2 separate regions of the Homo sapiens genome follow, and region 1 is linked to region 2. The links come from fine-mapping of genetic effects on plasma protein levels. A gene starts in region 2. The other region holds a variant in brackets. All regions are shown on one strand. Distances are from middle to middle. Region 1 has its middle 13 kb from the start of LTBR. Region 2 holds the start of LTBR (lymphotoxin beta receptor).

Evidence for each region. PIP is the chance, under the fine-mapping model, that this variant and not a neighbour inherited with it causes the effect. Protein levels are from antibody-based Olink assays in UK Biobank. Linkage for the fine-mapping came from a reference panel and not from the study's own genotypes, which makes the PIPs less certain.
Region 1: its variant is fine-mapped to the plasma level of the LTBR protein (UK Biobank, PIP above 0.99).

Annotation. Positions count from the first base shown.
Region 1 is chr12:6,392,314-6,402,882 of GRCh38, forward strand. No RefSeq gene overlaps it. Among named protein-coding and RNA genes, the nearest start is that of LTBR, 13 kb to the left of the region's middle. The variant A/AT (reference allele first, on the strand shown) is at 4,758.
Region 2 is chr12:6,376,377-6,384,376 of GRCh38, forward strand. LTBR (lymphotoxin beta receptor) reads left to right here and starts at 7,786. Exons shown (of 10, transcript NM_002342.3): 1 at 7,786-8,000. The coding sequence starts at 7,983. It also overlaps a transcript of SCNN1A not described here. RefSeq lists enhancers at 15-619, 6,839-7,704.

The DNA of each region.
Region 1 (10,569 bases), 17 kb after region 2:
CCCAGGCTGGTCTCGAACTCCTGGGCTCAAGCAATCCTCCTGCCTTGGCCTCTGAACATGCAGTGATTACAGGCGTGAGAGCCACCGTGCCTGACCTGAGGTGTGCACTTTAGACATAAAATGAGAGAGGCCAAGTTCACATTTTGTTGGTGAACAGAAATCTAGGCTGGCCTCCTTTTGGTTCAGAAAGAGTATTTATGATTTTTACTTTTTTGGTTTCTTTTTGTCTTCTTTTATTTTTACCCCCAAAAAGGACTTTAAATCTTCTCAAGCCCTCTTATTAGTAAATGTTTGCCCCTCCCTGCCCCTGAATTCTCTCCTGTGCTCGGTCGAGAGGATCTTAGCTTGCAGGATTGTTAGGGAGCTGCTGCCAGCCGGCTGCTCCTTCCATAAAAGGCCACTCTCATGGGTCTGATATGAGGAACTCTGTCGCTGGAGCTCATCAGGGTGGGGCGGCTGCAAAACACACACCTCAGAAGGCGTCTGATCCAATGGAGTGGATGGGTCATTTAAGGTTGACTGTGAAAATATCACATCCAACTTCCTTTTTTGAAAAGTAAATAATGGTGAGCTGTATCTTTAAATAAAGTTAAATCCTCCTGCCCCTGCAATATGCTGGGGCCAGACCTCATGAATTCTTAATAATTGTTCTAATGTGTTTAGATAAAAAACAAATTTTATACATTTTTTTCAACAAAATAAAAGGAGGAAAATATTTTGAAAGAAATGATGCTGAAGCACAGCCCTTTGTGACACCATTCAAATTTATAATTATACCTGCCTGTATTTTTTTAGAGACAGGGTCTTACTGTGTCGCCCTGGCTTGAGTGCAGTGGTATAATCGTGGCTCATATAGCCTCAGCTCCTAGACTCAAATGATCTTCCTACCTCAGCCTCCCACGTAGCTAGAGCTACAGATGCGTGCCACCACACCTGGCTAATTTTTTTTTAATTTCTTTTTTAAGAAGTGGGGTCTTGCTATGTTGTCCAGGCTGGTCTCAAACTCCTGGGATCAAGTGATCCTCCCACCTCAGCCTCCCAAAGAGCTGAGATTGCAGGCATGAGCCACTGCACCTGGGCTGCCTAAATTAATTTTCTAGGGCCGCCATAACAAAGTACTGCAGACTCGATAGCTTAAGCTGCAGAGATTTATCTTCTCACAGCTCTGGAGGCTGGAAGTCAGAGGTCAACGTGTTGGCAAGGTTGGTGTCCTCTGAGGCCTCTGTCCTTGGCCTGCTAATGGTGGCCTTCCTGCCACCTATGTCTTCACATGGTCTTGCCTTTGTGCATGAGTGTGTCCTAATCTTCTCTTAGTGGATTAGGGCCCATCCTGATGACCTCATTTTAACTTAGTCACCTCTTTAAAGCCCCTGTCTCCAAATAAGGCCCCATTCTGAGGTCCTGGGAGTTAGGGCTTCAGCACGTGGATTTTGGAGGGAGACACAGTTCCACCCACAGCATTACCCATGTCTATTTTGCCAGTGTGGAGTCAGTACAGGCTCCAGGACACATCCACAGAGCACAGGCCACGTAGAGGGGAGCTCCTGTCTACAAGGAAAAGCTGGCAGAAAACCAACAAAGACAGCCTCTTGATGGTGGTCTTCAAAAGATGCAACAGGATGCAATGGCAGTTGACAATGGGGTAACTGTTGGTTGTGAGAACCCTAATCCTCTACCACAGGGAGGAGAAAGCTAACACCAAGTCCAACCCACATCAACACGGGGGTGGGACACCCGTTAGGGGGCCAAGGCTGTAGTCCAGAAGAAAGGTGGATGGAACTGGGGACAGAGCAGTAGCACAGGGAGATGGGGGAGGATGGGGTAATTCAGAATTTCCCTTTTTGAGAGTGGCATCAACACAATGTCAAAGTAGGAGTTCTCCGGCTTCTCTCCTCCCCAACAGAATTTCAACTAGCAACAATCCTGTGGCAAGTTTACCACCCTGAATATCCCAGAACTTGGAGTGAAGCTTTGCATCCCCTGGGATGGCAGAGCCAAGAAAAACCATGAGGACGGTAAGGGGATGGCTGCTTTCTGACCACGCCACTCCTCCCCAAGCCCGCACAGTGCCACACGCAGAGGAGTCCCTGGATGCTCGGTTTCTCCAGTGGACACAGTGGATGGGAGGTGGGCGTTCGGCTTCCCCACCAGTCTGAGACTTCACAGGAGACTCACTCTAGTCTTTTCCCGCAGGAAGCACTGTGAGTACCGGCAGGGTCAGCCCAACAAGGGTCAGTAAGAACTTCCCTTTTCAAAAGATAAAGCGGTTCACATAGACAGCTGTGGTGGACTCTTTCTGCTGCCTGTCCAACAGACTTCTGCACATTTCCTAAGGACAGAACCGCATTTTTGTACTAGAGCAGAGATTCCGTGACATCAGGAGAAGAGGCCCTTCCCCCAATCCCAGGAGCCAATAAACTCATTCTTCTTTGCAATTGTACAATGACATGCACAGGGAAGTCTTCCTTTCCAGGGTATAAAGCACCATTAGGAGAAAGTTTTTGGTTTGCCTTGGCCCTTATTTTTTGTTTTGGGGATTTTGCGTGTGACAACATCACTCCTGAGCTGTGGCAGCCATCTTACCATCATGAGGAAACCGCCACGGGGATAAAAAGCCAGTCCTCTGAGGACCTGGAAGAAAGGACAGAACCTGGCTCCCAAGGCATCACTGAGACCCAAATCAACAGTAAGTAAGCACAGCACCTACTCCTGGGCTTCTTTTTATGAGAGAAAAAAAAAGTTCCCATTTGTGTAAATCATAGTGTTTGGTGTTCCTTTTCTTTTTTAGTTTTAATTGTATTTATTTCCTCTCTTTCGGATGGTTGATTTATTCACATGGGTCAAAATTCAAAAAGTATCAAAGAGTAAACAGTGAAATGTCTCTCTTTCACTCCTATCCCCCAACCACCAAGGTCCCTGCTCTGGAAGCAACCAATGTTACTGTTTCTGATGCTTTTCCAGAGGTAATTTATGCATATTCAAACAAATATATATAAATAGATTCCTTTGCTTTTTTATTTCTACAGATGGTACTACAGTAGTCCCCCCTTGTTTGTTATTTTTTTTTCTTGTTTGTGATTTTGCTTTCCATGGTTTCAGTTATCTGCTGTCAACTGTGGTCCAAAAATATTAAATGGAAAATTCCGGAAAGAAACAATTCATCTGTTTTAAATTGTGCACTGTTCTGAACAGCATGATGAAACCTCAAGCTGTCCTACTGAGACAGAGTAGGGATGGGACTCGGGCCCCACTCGTGCCCTACCAAGAACCTCTATTGTAAGCTGGGGTGGGGGTGTGTGGCCAGTGAGGACCCCAACCAGACTGTCCAGACCTTGCACCATGAATCTTGCTCAAGGTACTATACCCACTCATCGCAGACCCTTAGAGAGACTAAGATGAACAACGTCCCACCATAAATCTTACTCCAGGTGCCAAACCCACTAGTTGTAGAAATTAAAATAAGCAGCTCCCACCTTGAATCTTACTCAAAGGAGTTAACCCTATCTCCCGTATGTATACCACAGGACCAGAAGAATGAGCGCTCCTTTGCCTTATCTTCATTATAATACTAAAAATCACACCGGGGTGGAGACTTAACATGCTAATGAGACACACGATGCATAAAGAAGCATGTTATCAAACTGAACAGGTGCCAAAATTTCCTCATCTCTACCTGCTCAAACTCACTCCCTTCCCACTTTAGTTCCTTTAATTCTCCTTTAGTTCCTTTAGTTCTCTTGAGTCTCTTCCAGGAGCCAGCCAGAGAATTCTCTCTCTCGTGCTGCCTCCCTTATGCCCTGCATAAGCTCTAATAAAGCCTTGTCTGGGAAAACTCTTTTGGCCTCATGTTAACTTCTATTGCATTAACAACCCCCAAGGCCCTGTGGTTGGTAACACTACTCCTGTCCCTTCAAGACATGAATTCTCCCTTTGTCCAGCATCTCCTCCCTGCAGACGCTCCCTACCCCTTAGTCACTTACAAGCCTTCCCAGTGATCAGACCAACTGTTGAGATATTGCATGCTTGTGTTCAAGTCACCCTTATTTTACTTCATAATGGCCTCAAAGTGCAAGAGTGGTGATACTGGTCATTCAGATATGCCAAAGAGAAGCCATAATATGCTTCCTTTGATGACTTTGCTAAGATCTGCATAACAATGCACCTTCTATTCATGAAGTTGTGAAGCAGAAAAAAAGAAATTCAAACTAGTTTTGCTGTCACACCTTAAACTGCAAAAGTCATGGTGCATGATAAGTGCTTAGTTAAGTTGGAAAAGGCATCAAATTTCTGGGTGGAAGACATGAACAGAAACGTGTTTTGACTGACAGCAATCGGGTTCAGTGCTATCCACGGTTTCAGGCATCCACTGGGGGCCTTGGAATGTATCCCCCTTGGAGGAGGGTGGACTACTGTACACGATGTTCTGTAAGTTCTTCCCCTTGCCTTTTTCATTTATTAAAAGAGCTTGGCCATAATACCATATTAGTACCAAAAAAAGTTCTCATTCATTTTTCTATCTGTGTGGTATTCTATCACCTGGCTGTACCATTTAACTGGATCCCTTTTGAGAATTTTTAATTCATCTCCAACCTTTACTATTACAGACAACACTACAGTAATAACCTATGTCATTTTGCACATGTGGAAGTACTGCTACAAAAAAAATTGCTGGAAATAAAATTTCCTGGTTAAAAGGTACATACATTTCGTTTTGATAAATGTTGCTAATTTGTCTTCCATAGAGATGGAATATCGGA[A/AT]TTTTTTTTTTTTTGAGATGGAGTCTCACTCTGTCACCCAGGCTGGAGTGCAGTGGCGCAATCTGGGCTCACTGCAAGCTCCGCCTCCCGGGTTCACGCCATTCTCCTGCCTCAGTCTCCTGAGTAGCTGGGACTACAGGCGCCTGCCACCACACCCGGCTAATTTTTTTGTATTTTTAGTAGAGATAGGGTTTCACCGTGTTAGCCAGGATGGTGTTGATCTCCTGACCTTGTGATCCGCCCGTCTCGGCCTCCCAAAGTGCTGGGATTACAGGCATGAGCCACCGTGCCCGGCCGAACATCGGAAATTTTTAAGTGTCCATTTCCTTACATAAACACCAACTTTGATGTGTTATCAAATATTTTGATCTTTGCCAAACTGAAAGATAGAAAAAAAAAAGTTATCTCAGTGTAATTTTTATTTGGATTTCTTATTGCGAGTGAAGTTTTTCACTTCACTGTGAATGAGTATTTCATTTCATATGAGTGAACATTTCATATGTTAAAGAGCCAGTTGTAATTTATTTTCTACTGACTGTTCATATCTCTATTTTTCTTTTTTTTTTTTTTTTTGACAGGGTCTTGCTCTGTCACCCAGGCTGGAGTGCAGTGGCCCAATCACAACTCTCTGCAGCCTCCACCTCCCAGGCTCAAGTGATTCTCCCACCTCAGCCTCTCTCCAGTAGCTGGGACTACAGACACACACCACCACGCCAGGTTACTTTTTAAATTTTTTGTAGAGATGAGGTTTCACCATGTTGCCCAGGCTGGTCTCAAACTCCTGAGCTCCTTCTGCCTCAGTCTTCAAAGTGCTGGGATTACAGGTGTGAGCCATCACACTTGGCCTCCTATATTTCTATTAGTTTTCAAATGTTATCTTTTTATCTCCAGTCATCTATTGAACAATAATTTTTTCTTCACTAATTTAAAACTACTGTTATGATAAGCCAAGTTTTTGTGCAAGTTTGAATTTACTTCTGGATTTTCAATTCTCTCTCATTGATCCGTCTTTTCAATTTGCCAACATTACAGTCTTTCAATTGTTTTAGCTTTATATTTTAATATCTATTAGGGCCAGTAGCTCCTTTTATTCTCTGTTTTTAAGAATTTTTCTAACTATATTTTCTTCCTTTTCCACATGAATTTTAGGACCTGTTTATTTAGTTCACTCCCCCTCCAAAAGAAAGGCTCCTTTGAGGATGTGTTTTGAGATTGTATTGAATTTACAAATCAATTAGTGTGTTGGGTTTGTTTGTTTGTTTTTAATTTGAGACAGAGTTTCGCTCTGTCACCCAGGCTGGAGTGCAGTGGTGCGATCTCGGCTCACTGCAACCTCCGCCTCCCGGGTTCAAGCGATTCTCCTGCCTCAGCCTCCTGAGTAGCTGGGATTACAGGTGCATGCTACCATGCCCGACTAATTTTTGTATTTTTAGTAGAGATGGGGTTTCACCATATTGGCCAAGCTGGTCTCGAACTCCTGACCTCAAGTGATCCACCTGCCTCAGCCTTCCAAAGTGCTGGGATTACAGGCATGAGCTACCGTGCCGGGCCGGGTCTTCTTTTCAAGAACATGATATACCCTTCTATTTGTTGATACCCTCCTCTTTGTGTCCTCAGTAGCATTTTAATGTTTCCTTAATATGGGCATTTCTCATTATAGTCATTCCTTGGTGTTTTACCTTTATAAGTGCTATAAAAATGGGATTTTTTAGTTTTGTTTTCTTTCTTTTTCCCCAGCCACCTACTGAATTCCCTCATGATCTATAATAGTTTTTTTGTTTTGTTTTGTTTTTGTTTCTTTTCTGAGACAGAGTCTCACTCTGTCACCCAGGCTGGAGTGCAGTGGTGTGATCTCAGCTCACTGCAAGCTCCGCCTCCCGGGTTCACGCCATTCTCCTGCCTCACCCTCCCTAGTAGCTGAGACTACAGGCGCCCGCCACCACGCCCGCCTAATTTTTTGTATTTTTAGTACAGACGGGGTTTCACCGTGTTAGCCAGGATAGTCTCGATCTCCTGACCTTATGATCTGCCCACCTCGACCTCCCAAAGTGCTGGGATTACAGGCGTGAGCCACCGCGCCTGGCCTATAACAGTTTTTCAATTAATTTTCTTAGGTTATCACCTACAAATAATGCTAATTTTGTAATAATTTTTCTAGAAACAAGTTATTGCCATGTTGCCCAGGCTGGTACCGAACTCCTAGGCTCAAGCAATCTGCCCACCTTGGCCTCCCAAAGTGCTGGGATTACAGGTGTGAGCCACCACACCTGGCCTATAACAGTTTTTCAATTAATTTTCTTAGGTTATCACCTACAAATAATGCTAATTTCATAGTAATTTTTCTAGAAACAAGTTATTGCCATGTTGCCCAGGCTGGTACCGAACTCCTAGGCTCAAGCAATCTGCCCACCTTGGCCTCCCAAAGTGCTGGGATTACAGGTGTGAGCCACCGCACCTGGCCTATAACAGTTTTTCAATTAATTTTCTTAGGTTATCACCTACAAATAATGCTAATTTCATAATAATTTTTCTAGAAACAAGTTATTGCCATGTTGCCCAGGCTGGTATTGAACTCCTAGGCTCAAGCAATCTGCCCACCTTGGCCTCCCAAAGTGCTGGGATTACAGGCGTGAGCCACCGCGCCTGGCCCTAATATTTTTAAATCTCATCTAAATGCATCTCATAGTACCTCCAGAACAATAGTAAATAGTAATGGACAGCTCTGTCTCAATCCTGATTTTAAGGGCAATACTTCCAGTATTTTCTCATTAAGCAGCAGTTGAAATACGTATATTTATTTTATTATGCTAAGGAAGTATCCATATCTTATTATTTCATAATAATCCAATGGATAATGAATAAATAATAGAAACGGAAAGACCAGATCAAAGGCTACTGCAATAGGGAGATGGAGAAAGGTGGAAGGTTGGAGATATGCCTTAGAGATAGAGTCAACAGGATTTATTGGTGGGCGTGGGTCCCAGCTCATATTTTATGGCCTTGGGTATTAGTTTGTTTAATCTGAGCCTCACATTCAAATTAACATTTGGTAAACATTAAGTGAGAATTTACTATGTACTAGTCATCTTAAGATACAACAGCCAACGAGACAGACCTGATACATAAACTTCTGGAGCTTGTAAAATAATCACAATTATTGCTTTTGTAGACAAGTGCTACAAAAGAGAAGCACAACATATAACCAGTGACCGATTCTAGGTCTGGAGATGAGGAAATTCCTCCCTGAGGAAATTTAAGATACAACCTGAAGAATAAATAAGGGCTAGCCAAATTGAAGGGGTGTTGGAGAGGAGAGCTCTGCTGGTGGGTTAAATGGTACGTGCAAAGGCCCTGTGATAGGAAGAATAGTTTGGCTGGAACTTGGGAATAGAGAGATGAAGCTAGAGAAGTAGGCGGGTAACACGTCATTCAGACTTACAGACTACAGCAATTTTGAACTTTACCCTAAGAGCAATAGGAAACCAGTAAAATTTTTTTCCAGTGTAGTAAAGTATATATATATAAATATATATGTTATATGTGTGTGTGTGTGTATATATACACACATACATATAAAATATGTGTATATAGTGTATATATACACACATATATATAAAATATGTGTGTGTGTGTGTGTGTGTGTGTGTGTATATATATTTTTTTTTTCACTCTGTTGCCCAGGCTGAAGTGCAGTGGCATAATCTCGGCTCACTGCAACCTCTGCCTCCCAGGTTCAAGAGATTCTCCTGTCTCAGCTTCCCTAGTAGCTGGGACTACAGGCGTGCACCACCACACCTGGCTAATTTTTGTATTATTAGTAGTGATGGGGTTTCACCATGTTGGCCAGGCTGGTCTCGAACTCCTGACCTCAAGTGATCCACCTGCCTTGGCCTCCCAAAGTACTTGGATTACAGTCATGAGCCACTTCACCCGGCCTGTAAAGTATATAAAGTATATTAATCTTAAGTGTATAGCCTGAAGAAGTGTTACATAGGTATATACCCATGTTACCATCACAGAAGATATGCAACATTTTACTTCCTTAGAAGATAACTTCATGCCACTTTCCACTCAGTCATGCTTACTGCTTGAGTTCCAGTTTATATTCTGGCAGACATATGACATCCCAGAGATATCCACTTTCCTATTTTGACTTATATCCCCATCAGTTAGTATTTGTTTGTTTGTTTGTTTTTAAGATGGAGTCTCCCTCTTGTCGCTCAGGCTGGAGTGCAGCGGTGCTATCCTGGCTCACTGCAACCTCTGCCTCCCAGGTTCAAGCGATTCTCCTGCCTCAGCCTCCCGAGTAGCTGGGATTACAGGCGCCCACTCACCTGGCTAATTTTTGTATTTTTAGTAGCGACGGGGTTTCGCCATGTTGGCCAAGCTGGCCTTGAACTCCTGGCCTCAAGCCATCTGCCCATTTCGGCCTCCCGAAGTGCTGGGATTACAGACATGAACCATCACGCCTGGCTCATTTGGGTTTTTTTTCTTAATGAGTTTTTAGTTTGGAAAAATTTTAGAATTACAGAAAAGTTGCAAAGATAGTACAGAGGGTTTTGGTATACCTTTCACCCAGCTGCCCTTAATGTTAATATCTCACATAGCCATGATACATTTGTCAAAACTAATTAAGAAATTAACATATCAACTAAACTACAGATTTTATTTAGATTTCACCAGTTTTTTTCCTTAAATCCTTTTTCTGTTCCAGAATCCAATCCAGGATACCACATTGCACTTAGTGATTATGATCCCTTAATATTTAGTCTTCTCTGATCTGTGACAGTTTCTGTCTTTCCTTATGCTGAGACAGGCAGATCGCTTAAGTCCACAAGCTCGAGACTAGCCTAGGCAACATGGCTAAACCCTGTCTCACAAAAAAAAATACAAAAATTAGCCTGGTGTGCTGATGTGTGCTTCTAGTCCCACCTACTTGAGGGGCTGAGGTGAAAGGATTTCTAGAGCCCGGGAGGTCGAGGCTGCAGTGAGATGTGATCCCACCCTGCACTCCAGCCTGGGAGACAGAGCGAGACTGTCTCACAAAGTGAAAAAAAAAAAGAAAAGAAAAAGGAAAAAGCAACTGCCAACCTGTCTCCAAAGTGACTATATCATTTTGCATTCCCAAAAGCAATGAATGAGAGTTCCTGTTGCACATCTTCACCCGCATTTGGTGATGGTGGCAGTGTTTTAGAAATTCTAGTAAGACCAGCATTTGGTGATGGTGGCAGTGTTTTAGAAATTCTAGTAAGACCAGCATTTGGTGGTTGGTGGCAGTTTTAGAAATTCTAGTAAGACCAGCATTTGGTGGTTGGTGGCAGTGTTTTAGAAATTCTAGTAGGACCAGCATTTGGTGATGGTGGCAGTGTTTTTTTTTATTTTTTATTTTTATTTATTTTATTTATTTATTTTTTTGAGACGGAGTCTTGCTCTGTCACCCAGGCTGGAGTGCAGTGGCGCGATCTCGGCTCACTGCAAGCTCCGCCTCCCGGGTTCACGCCATTCTCCTGCCTCAGCCTCCTGAGTAGCTGGGACTATAGGCGCCCATCACCACACCCAGCTAATTTTTTTTATTTTTAATAGAGGTGGGGTTTAACCATGTTAGCCAGGATGGTCTCAATCTCCTGACCTCGTGATGATGGTGGCAGTGTTTTAGAAATTCTGGTAAGACCAGTATTTGGTGGTTGGTGGCAGTGTTTTAGAAATTGTAGTAAGACCAGCATTTGGTGGTTGGTGGCAGTGTTTTAGAAATTGTAGCACGACTAGCATTTGGTGGTTGGTGGCAGTGTGTTAGAAATTCTAGTAAGACCAG
Region 2 (8,000 bases):
TGCTGTGGTCACAGAGTTGCAGGAATGTGGGCAACCAGAGGCAGCGCGAGGGCCACGCAGGACACTGTGGACACAGACCCGGAGCCCAGGAAGAGGCAGGGAAAGCAGGCACTGAAGGTGCAGGGAGGATGTGGCCAGCGCTGGAAAGGAAGAGGGTGGGCATGGCACACGCCTAGACAGGCCCTGGGAGGAGGAGAAATTCGTTGATGGGCTATATTTTCTCCAAAATCTCTTTCCAAACTTAATGCAGCAAAAGGATAAGGAGTGGAGTGCCAAGTGGTGAGCAAGGAGAGAGAGGAGGGTCAGAGAATCAGACCCAAAAAGGGCTGGAGGAGACTCGGGAGAGCCACCCACACAACCCAGGCCCTGCACGCGGCAGGGAAGGCTGCCGCTTCCTCACGGGCCCCACAGGAGGCAGCCCAGAGTGCAGGAATGTGGTCACTGGCTTGTCCTGCCTCCCTCCACAAGCCAGCAGACAAAGGCCCAGCCTGAGCATTGATACACACCGGGGGAGGAGATAGGCCTGCAATACAATAAGATAAGGTTTCTATTTGTACACTTTAAAAGATTGTCTTTAAAACGGACTTCTAACAAAAGTGCAGATCTCAGATTTCTCAGAGATAAGACATAAGAGCCAAGGGCTAGGGGAGCCTAGGGGCTCACTGCAGGAGACTCAGGAAGCCTTCCCAGAGAAGGTGTCATCTCTGCTGAATCTTGACAAGCAAGGAGTTTAGCAGGCAAAGAAGAGAAAAGGCAGTACTCCAGGCTCAGGGTCCAACCTGGTCTGTGGCTTCCTCTCTTGCGGCAGTCTCTTGCGACTTCTTAAAGTGAAAGCCGGTGTCAACCAGGATTCCAAACCAGGTTCCCTTGCTTACCTTGATACTGCTCATGATACCTCCCCTTGGAAGGGACAGCTGGATTTTTCTTCATTGTCCTAATGAAGAAACTGACCCTTCCCAAGGATAAATCAGTTTTCTGAGGTTAGAAAACAAAATAGGAGCAGAGCTATAAACAGAATTCAGAATTCTCCTCCTCCTCTGGGGCTATCTACTTAGCGCTTTTGCCATTTACTTCCTGAGACAGACTCATGGGGGATCGGGGCTCAGGTGCACCTGGATGTGAAAGCCGGGAAGGCCTCCCTCACTCCCACACAGAGCCCGTGGATTCGTCTGCTCTCTGGGTGCTGGGTTATCTCCTTGGCTCTGTGAAAAGGTCTCTGCACTGTCCCCACTGCCCCACATATCCCAGAGACCCCTAGAAACTCCAGTCTCCCTTGAGCCAGGTCCTTACATTGGGCATGGTCCTCCCTGCAATAAGGTGCTCAGCACCCTGGCTGTTTGATCTCAAAGGTTCTGAAAAGCACCTCCCTGCCTTTTCTATTTGCCAGCTCATGCCTGAAATCCAACCACTAGCTTAAGGCAGCATGGCAAATAGTTTTCATATCAAGGGCTCTGTGAGAAGAATTGCAATGCCTGGTCTGGGCTGAGCCAAAGGGTGGTGACCCTGCCACGTCCTGCCGGGTATGGGAGTGGCAATGCGAGCCTAGTGCTGCAGCATTCTAGACCTGGAGCGGGCTAGAACAGGCTTGGTGTTGTGAGGAAAATAGAAATCTGAGACCTGGACTTTGGTCAGAAGTCCATTTTAAAGATGATCTTTTAAAGTGTACAAATAATACACAAATATGTTTTTGTCACAGTACAATTTTTCAGCAATACAGAAGTATATAGAGCTTCCCTTAGTCCCCTTCCTTTCCCTCCCCAAAGGGGAGCCACCATAATTTGTATATCTGTCTATATCTTTTTGTGTGCCTTTATAAACTTACATGTATTTTTAAAAAACAAAATATATAGTTCTTTTTTATGACAGAGACCATGCTATAGGTATGTTTCTACAACTTCCATTTTTGCTTTTATTTTCTTATTTATCTTAGAGACAGGATCATGCACTATCCTCTAGGCTGGAGTACAGCAGCATGATCATGGCTCACTGCAGCCTCCAACTCCTAGGCTCAAGCAGTCCTCCTGCCTCAGCCTCCCAAAGTGCTGGGATTACAAGTGTGAGCCACCATACTCAGCCCCTATTTTTGCTTTTAAACTATGTGACTTTGAGAAAGGCACTTGACCTCTATGGGCCCCGGTGATCTTACCTGAGAAAATGAAAGGGCAAGAAGGGGTGGGTAAGGCAACCCAGATGGACAAAGACTTTTTCCAGCTGACCTTGCATCTAGCCCCCTGCTTCATGCATGAGGGGACTGAGGCCCACAGAAGCAAAGTGACTTGGCCACAGTCACCCAGGAGTTAGGGGTGGGGTCAGACTGAAAACCAGGCCACTCCTTTCCAAGCCCAGTTCTCCTTCTCTGACTTTGAGAGAAGTACAGTTTTGTTCTATAAGAAGTCAAGAGCTTTGTAGACTCTGTCTTGGAAGGACCCCCTGCCTTCCCAGGACTACCCCCAGACTCCCCCAGAGCCCCAGCCCTTCCCGCCAACCCAGGGCTGCCTTCCCCTCCCAACACCAGCTATCCTCTAACCCTGTGGTGTGGCCATAAAATATGCACGGCTGCAGGGAGAGAAGTGAAACCAGAGGGGCTGCCATGGGATGAGGGTTATGAGTGCAAAGGGTCTTCCTGCCTCTTGTTCTCCGCGGACAGGAGATGACGGAAGTAATCACTCCACCCTCCTAGGGAGAGCCTATCTCTGCACTTACCACTGTTTACTATTATTTATTATTATTATTTACTATTATCCTGATGTATGTGTGTTTGTACGTATACATCCGTTTGGGGTCCCTGACTTCCCGCAACACAAGGACAGAGACCAGGCGTATTCATCTTGGTGACCTCAGTGTCTAGCGGTCACTGTTTGCTGACCCAGTCTGCAGAAGACAGCAGAACTGGCGTCTTTCCTAGTTTATCTTTGACAGAGCGGGATATGCTACGAAAAAGCATCTGCAAAACTTCAAACATCCTAACTTCCTCTGACAACCCATTTATTTGTGGTCTATTAATTTATCTAAATTTTCTTCACTTTTCCCTGTTCACTTCTATCCTTTCCAGGATAAGAATCAGTTACTTAGTTAAATGCAACTCTTTATTCTTACTACTTGGAGCTAATTAGCCACTTCACACTGGGGGCTGCCCACTGTGGAAGACAACAGTCCTTTCAGCTGCCCTTATGTGGTACAGATTTCTCTTTCATTTAAAATGATGGACCAGAAAAATGCCACTCTTCATCTAGTCCCCTGGCAGTTTACTTAGAAGTTCACTACTAGAAGTTGGCCGGGCATGGTGGCTCACGCCTGTAATCCCAGCACTTTGGGAGGCCGAGGCGGGTGGATCATGAGGTCAGGGGATCGAGGCCATCCTGGCTAACATGGTGAAACCCCGTCTCTACTAAAATTACAAAAAAAATTAGCTGGGCATAAGTGGTGCACGCCTGTAGTCCCAGCTACTCGGGAGGCTGAGGCAGGAGAATGGCATAAAACCGGGGAGGTGGAGCTTGGAGTGAGCCAAGATCGTGCCACTGCACTCCAGCCTGGGAGACAAAGCAAGACTCTGTCTCAAAAAAAAAAAAAACAAAAAAAAAAACAAAAAAAGAAGTTCACTACTAGAAGTTTATCACTTTGATTGAAGACAGGGTTTATCAACCTTGGCACTATTGACATTTTCGGCTGTATCATTCTTTGTGGTGGGACAGGATGATTCTGTCCTATCTACAATCCTGTGCAGGATGTTCAGCAGCATCCCTGGCTTCCATCTATTAGATGCTAGTAGCACCTCCTGAGTCATTGTGACCAAAACATCTCCAAATATTGCCAAATGACTTCTGGGGGGCAAAGTCACCCCCGTTGAAAAGACTGGGTTAAGGCATTGTCACCACTGAAAATGCAAATACTCTGGAAAAGGACAACCCTCATCTGTTATGCACTTCTGGGTGTTTGCCAGACCATTTCCAAGAGCACTAGTCAGCTAAGAGCAGAGTGGAGAAGAAGAGAGAAAGAAAAAGTATTTAGAAGAATCCATTCCTGGCCGGGTACAGTGGCTCGTGCCTGTAATCCCAGTACTTTGGGAGGCTAAGGTGGGCGAAATGACTTGAGACCAGGAATTCAAAACCAGCCTGTGGCCAACATGGCAAAACACCATCTCTACTAAAAATACAAAAATTAGCCGGGCCTGTTGGCGCATGCCTGTAGTCCCAGCTACTCAACTTGGGAGGCTGAGGCCAGGAAAATCACTTGAACCTGGGAGGCGGAGGTTGCAGTGAGCTGAGATTGCACCATTGCACTCCAGCCTGGGCGACAGACTGAGACTCTGTCTCAAAAAAAAAAAAAAAAGAAGAAGAAGAAGAAGAAGAATCCATTTCCATCAGCCCCCTTTCTGGATGCCTAATGGGCCTGTGGAAAGAAGGCTCTCTCAGCAGCTCCTTCGGAAGAAGGCCTGGGAGAAGAGTCCCACCCTCACACACCTTCTAGGCGTCCTGGGGTGCTCGGTCTGGGTCTGGTGTTGCCCAGTGGAAATCAGTCTCAGGAGGCTCTGGTGAAAAACACAAAAGGACAGGAGTAAAGACAATGCCCTGCCCGCGGTGAACCTGTGGATTTCTCACCCCTGGAGTCTCCCTTTATCCTCCTGGGGATGGCTGGGCATTATAGTAGCCATTTATTGGTAAGATTTGTCTTTCGTGATCCAGCTGGGAAACAAGAAACACTCTAAGTCTTTCAAACAGAAGAAGTTTAACACAGAGAACTAACTGGTACATGGGTGATGGAGGAGCTGAGAAGACAATGGGAGGCAGCTCAGAAAACAGCAGAGCGGGAAGCAGCTACCATCTCTAGGCCTGGAAAGATGGCAGGGTGATGTAGCATCAAAGACCAAGAAGCCTCCAGAGCCATTTGGCAGGAACTAAATAGTGTGGACTACTGGTAGGAGATGGGATTATGGAAGTGGGGAAGGAAGGAAGACAACCAACTGCAGGTGAAGCCAGAAAGCAGAGAGGAGAGAAATAGCCTGGCTGCTTCACTCCTCCCATCCCACCTCCATCCCACAGACCTGCAAGCAAACCAGTAGCTGACTGACACAATAAAGAGGCACACAGAGATAAAGTGATGGGGCCAGGATCAAAACCCAGATCTCAGGGCTCGTTCCTTAGGGTGTAGAGAGTCCATGAGGGCTGAAGCGCCAGCTTACGGCTGGCAGCAGAAAGAAACATACAGTCCAGCCAGCTGGGGTTAAAAGGGGTCTGGACATAGTGGTTACCTGTGAAGCAGGAAGCTTTGACTGGGAAGGGCATGTAGCAAACATTTGTAGTGCAAGGAACATTCTGGGGCCGGGTGCCGTGGCTCACGCCTGTAATCCCAGCACTTTGGGAGGCCAAGGCGGGTGGATCACAACATCAGGAGTTCAAGACCAGCCTGGTCAACATGGCGAAACCCCATCTCTACTAAAAATACAAAAATCAGCCAGGCATGGTGGCAGGCGCCCGTAATCCCAGCTACTCGGGAGGTTGAGGCAGAGAATTGTTTGAACCTGGGAGGCAGAGGTTGTAGTGAGCCGAGATTGCACCACTGCACTCCAGCCTGGGCGACAAAGCGAGACTCTGTATGGAAAGGAAAAGAGAAAAGAAGAGAAGAGAAGAGGTGTTCTGGACCAGTTGGGGGATATGCAAGAATACACAAAAGTGAAGACTCTCTGAGCTGTATCTGTAAGATCAGTGTACCTTACGGTTTCATTGTATTATATGTTACACCTCTATTAAAAGAAAGGGTCTCAGCAGCATAAGACAGGGTGGGGAAAAAAAGAAAAATAGAATAGAGAAAGAGTCCCTGTCTTTTAGGGTAAAATCCTGAAATATTTTCAAATGAAATGATATGATGTCTGGGATTTACTTCAAAATAATAATGAGGGATTTGAAGAGTGTGTGCGTTGGTGGGGGAGGGGGTATACAGAATAAATGAAACTGACAGTGAGTTGAAGCTGGGTAAGGAGTATATGGGAGACTCCCAATATTACTTTTTCTCTTTTGGTATATTATCTTGCATGTGGAATTTCCACAGTAAAAAGTAAAAAGAAGAGAGAGAAAAAAGGACCTAGGGTCGCTACACACACATTCCTTTACGCGTTTAAGAGCTCAGCAGGGACTCTCATCCCAGCCCCCAGCGCTAGGGCCCTGGAAGGCTCAGCAGCCCCGCGCAGTGCATGCTGTTCTGATACTTCTGCCCTTTCCAGCCATCTTTGGCCCATCTGTACGGTGAGCTGCCTGCACCAGGTGAGGGGAGAGAGCCTCACAGAGTGAAATGCCTACAGCCTAGGCAGGTCCTTTCCCCCTTTTGTGACCTCTCCTCCCCATGCACACTTCCCATCACCTGCACCTGTCCAGACATCAGACCTGAAGTTAGACAGACCAGTGTAAGGACGAGTGCTGAACAGAGTCCTTCAGGGAGGGGGATAGTGCCCAAGTGACCTATCTCAAGAGAGGTTAGCCCCTCATCCCAAGGGAGACATCCCTGAGCCACAAGGAGTTGGCAGGACTGCTGGAATGAGTTGGGACCTAGACATCAGGAGACCCAGATTGTAGCTGGCTCTGCGGTGGACTGGCTCTGTGATGTGGCCATCACTCATTTATTCCATAAATACCTATTGGGCACATGGTATGTGCCAGACTCTGCTAAGCATGGGGAACACAGACTTGAAGATTCAGCCTGGGCCATGGTGGCACTCACAGCCTGGTGGGAAGCAAACAAGACAGCCAGGTACAGAGGGCAGTCTTCACGGGGACTGTGCAACCTAGGGCAGAGGTTGCCTTCCAGAGCCTCAGTGAAGCCTCAAGGACAGGTGGGAGTTAGGAAGACGGAAACTTGGGGACCAGAGAACCACGTGTAAAAGGGGGCAGCTGCAAGTAACTCCACGGGTGGGTGGGGTGTTGGGTTGAGGGAGATGGGAGGATGAAACAGGGCAGGAACGAGACCAGGCCACCCTGGAATCCCGGTTCCCTTATGTATCACCCTTAGCCTCCCTCTCCATGCTTAAGGTGAGGGGGCTGGACTGCGTGGGCTCTCAGCTTTCTCCAGTTCTAAGGGGTTTGAAGGTTCATGGGCAAAGAAGCCAGAGCAGAGGGACTGAGTGCCCAGGTCCAGCCTGCTGGCCCCAGGACTCCCCTCCGCATATCCTCCCCCTCTCTTTGGGAGGGAGGTTCCCTGAGGACAGGGAGCAGGGCAAGCTGCACAGCTCTCAAGGGTCTCCTAGGTGACCTGTGCCCACTCCTGTGCGGATTGGGCTGGGTTGGTAGCGTGGGGGGCTGGCTGATTTGCTAGTCCCTTGTAATTTGTCTGAAAAACTCCCACAGTAGGGCAGGACAACGGGGGAGGAACCCGGGCATCTGCCAGCCGGTTCTCCTCGGTCTCAGAGCTGCTTCTGCGGCCTTGCAGTCCCCGCGCCCTGCCCTCTCCATGACTGCCCGTCCTGGGCCCCTCGCTTTCCAGATCCCGCACCCAGCTGTCCCTTGCGCTCTCTGGAACTCCCTCTGCTCTCCCTGCGAGGCTTGTCCAAGGGCTGACCCCGGGCCCGCCGCCCTTCCCTCGGCTGGGCCAGGGCTGTCCGCAGTCCGCTCTCCCGATCGGGCTTCCGAAGAAGGGAGGAGGCCGGTTCCGGCCCCGCGGCCCTCACGTGCTTTCCCGGCCGCCCCTCCCGCCCCGCATCGAGGCAGACAAGCCTGTTCCTCTTCCCTGGGCTGCGATTGCGACAGGCCGGCCTGGCTCCCAGCGCTCCCTGTCCCCGCCCCGCGGCCAGCTCGCTCCACTCCCACTTCCTGAGCTCCGCCATGGGAGCCCTGGAGGCCCGGCCTGGCCGCTCCCGGCCCTGGGGTGCACATCGGCCCTGAGTCCCGTCCCAGGCTCTGGGCTCGGGCAGCCGCCGCCACCGCTGCCCAGGACGTCGGGCCTCCTGCCTTCCTCCCAGGCCCCCACGTTGCTGGCCGCCTGGCCGAGTGGCCGCCATGCTCCTGCCTTGGGCC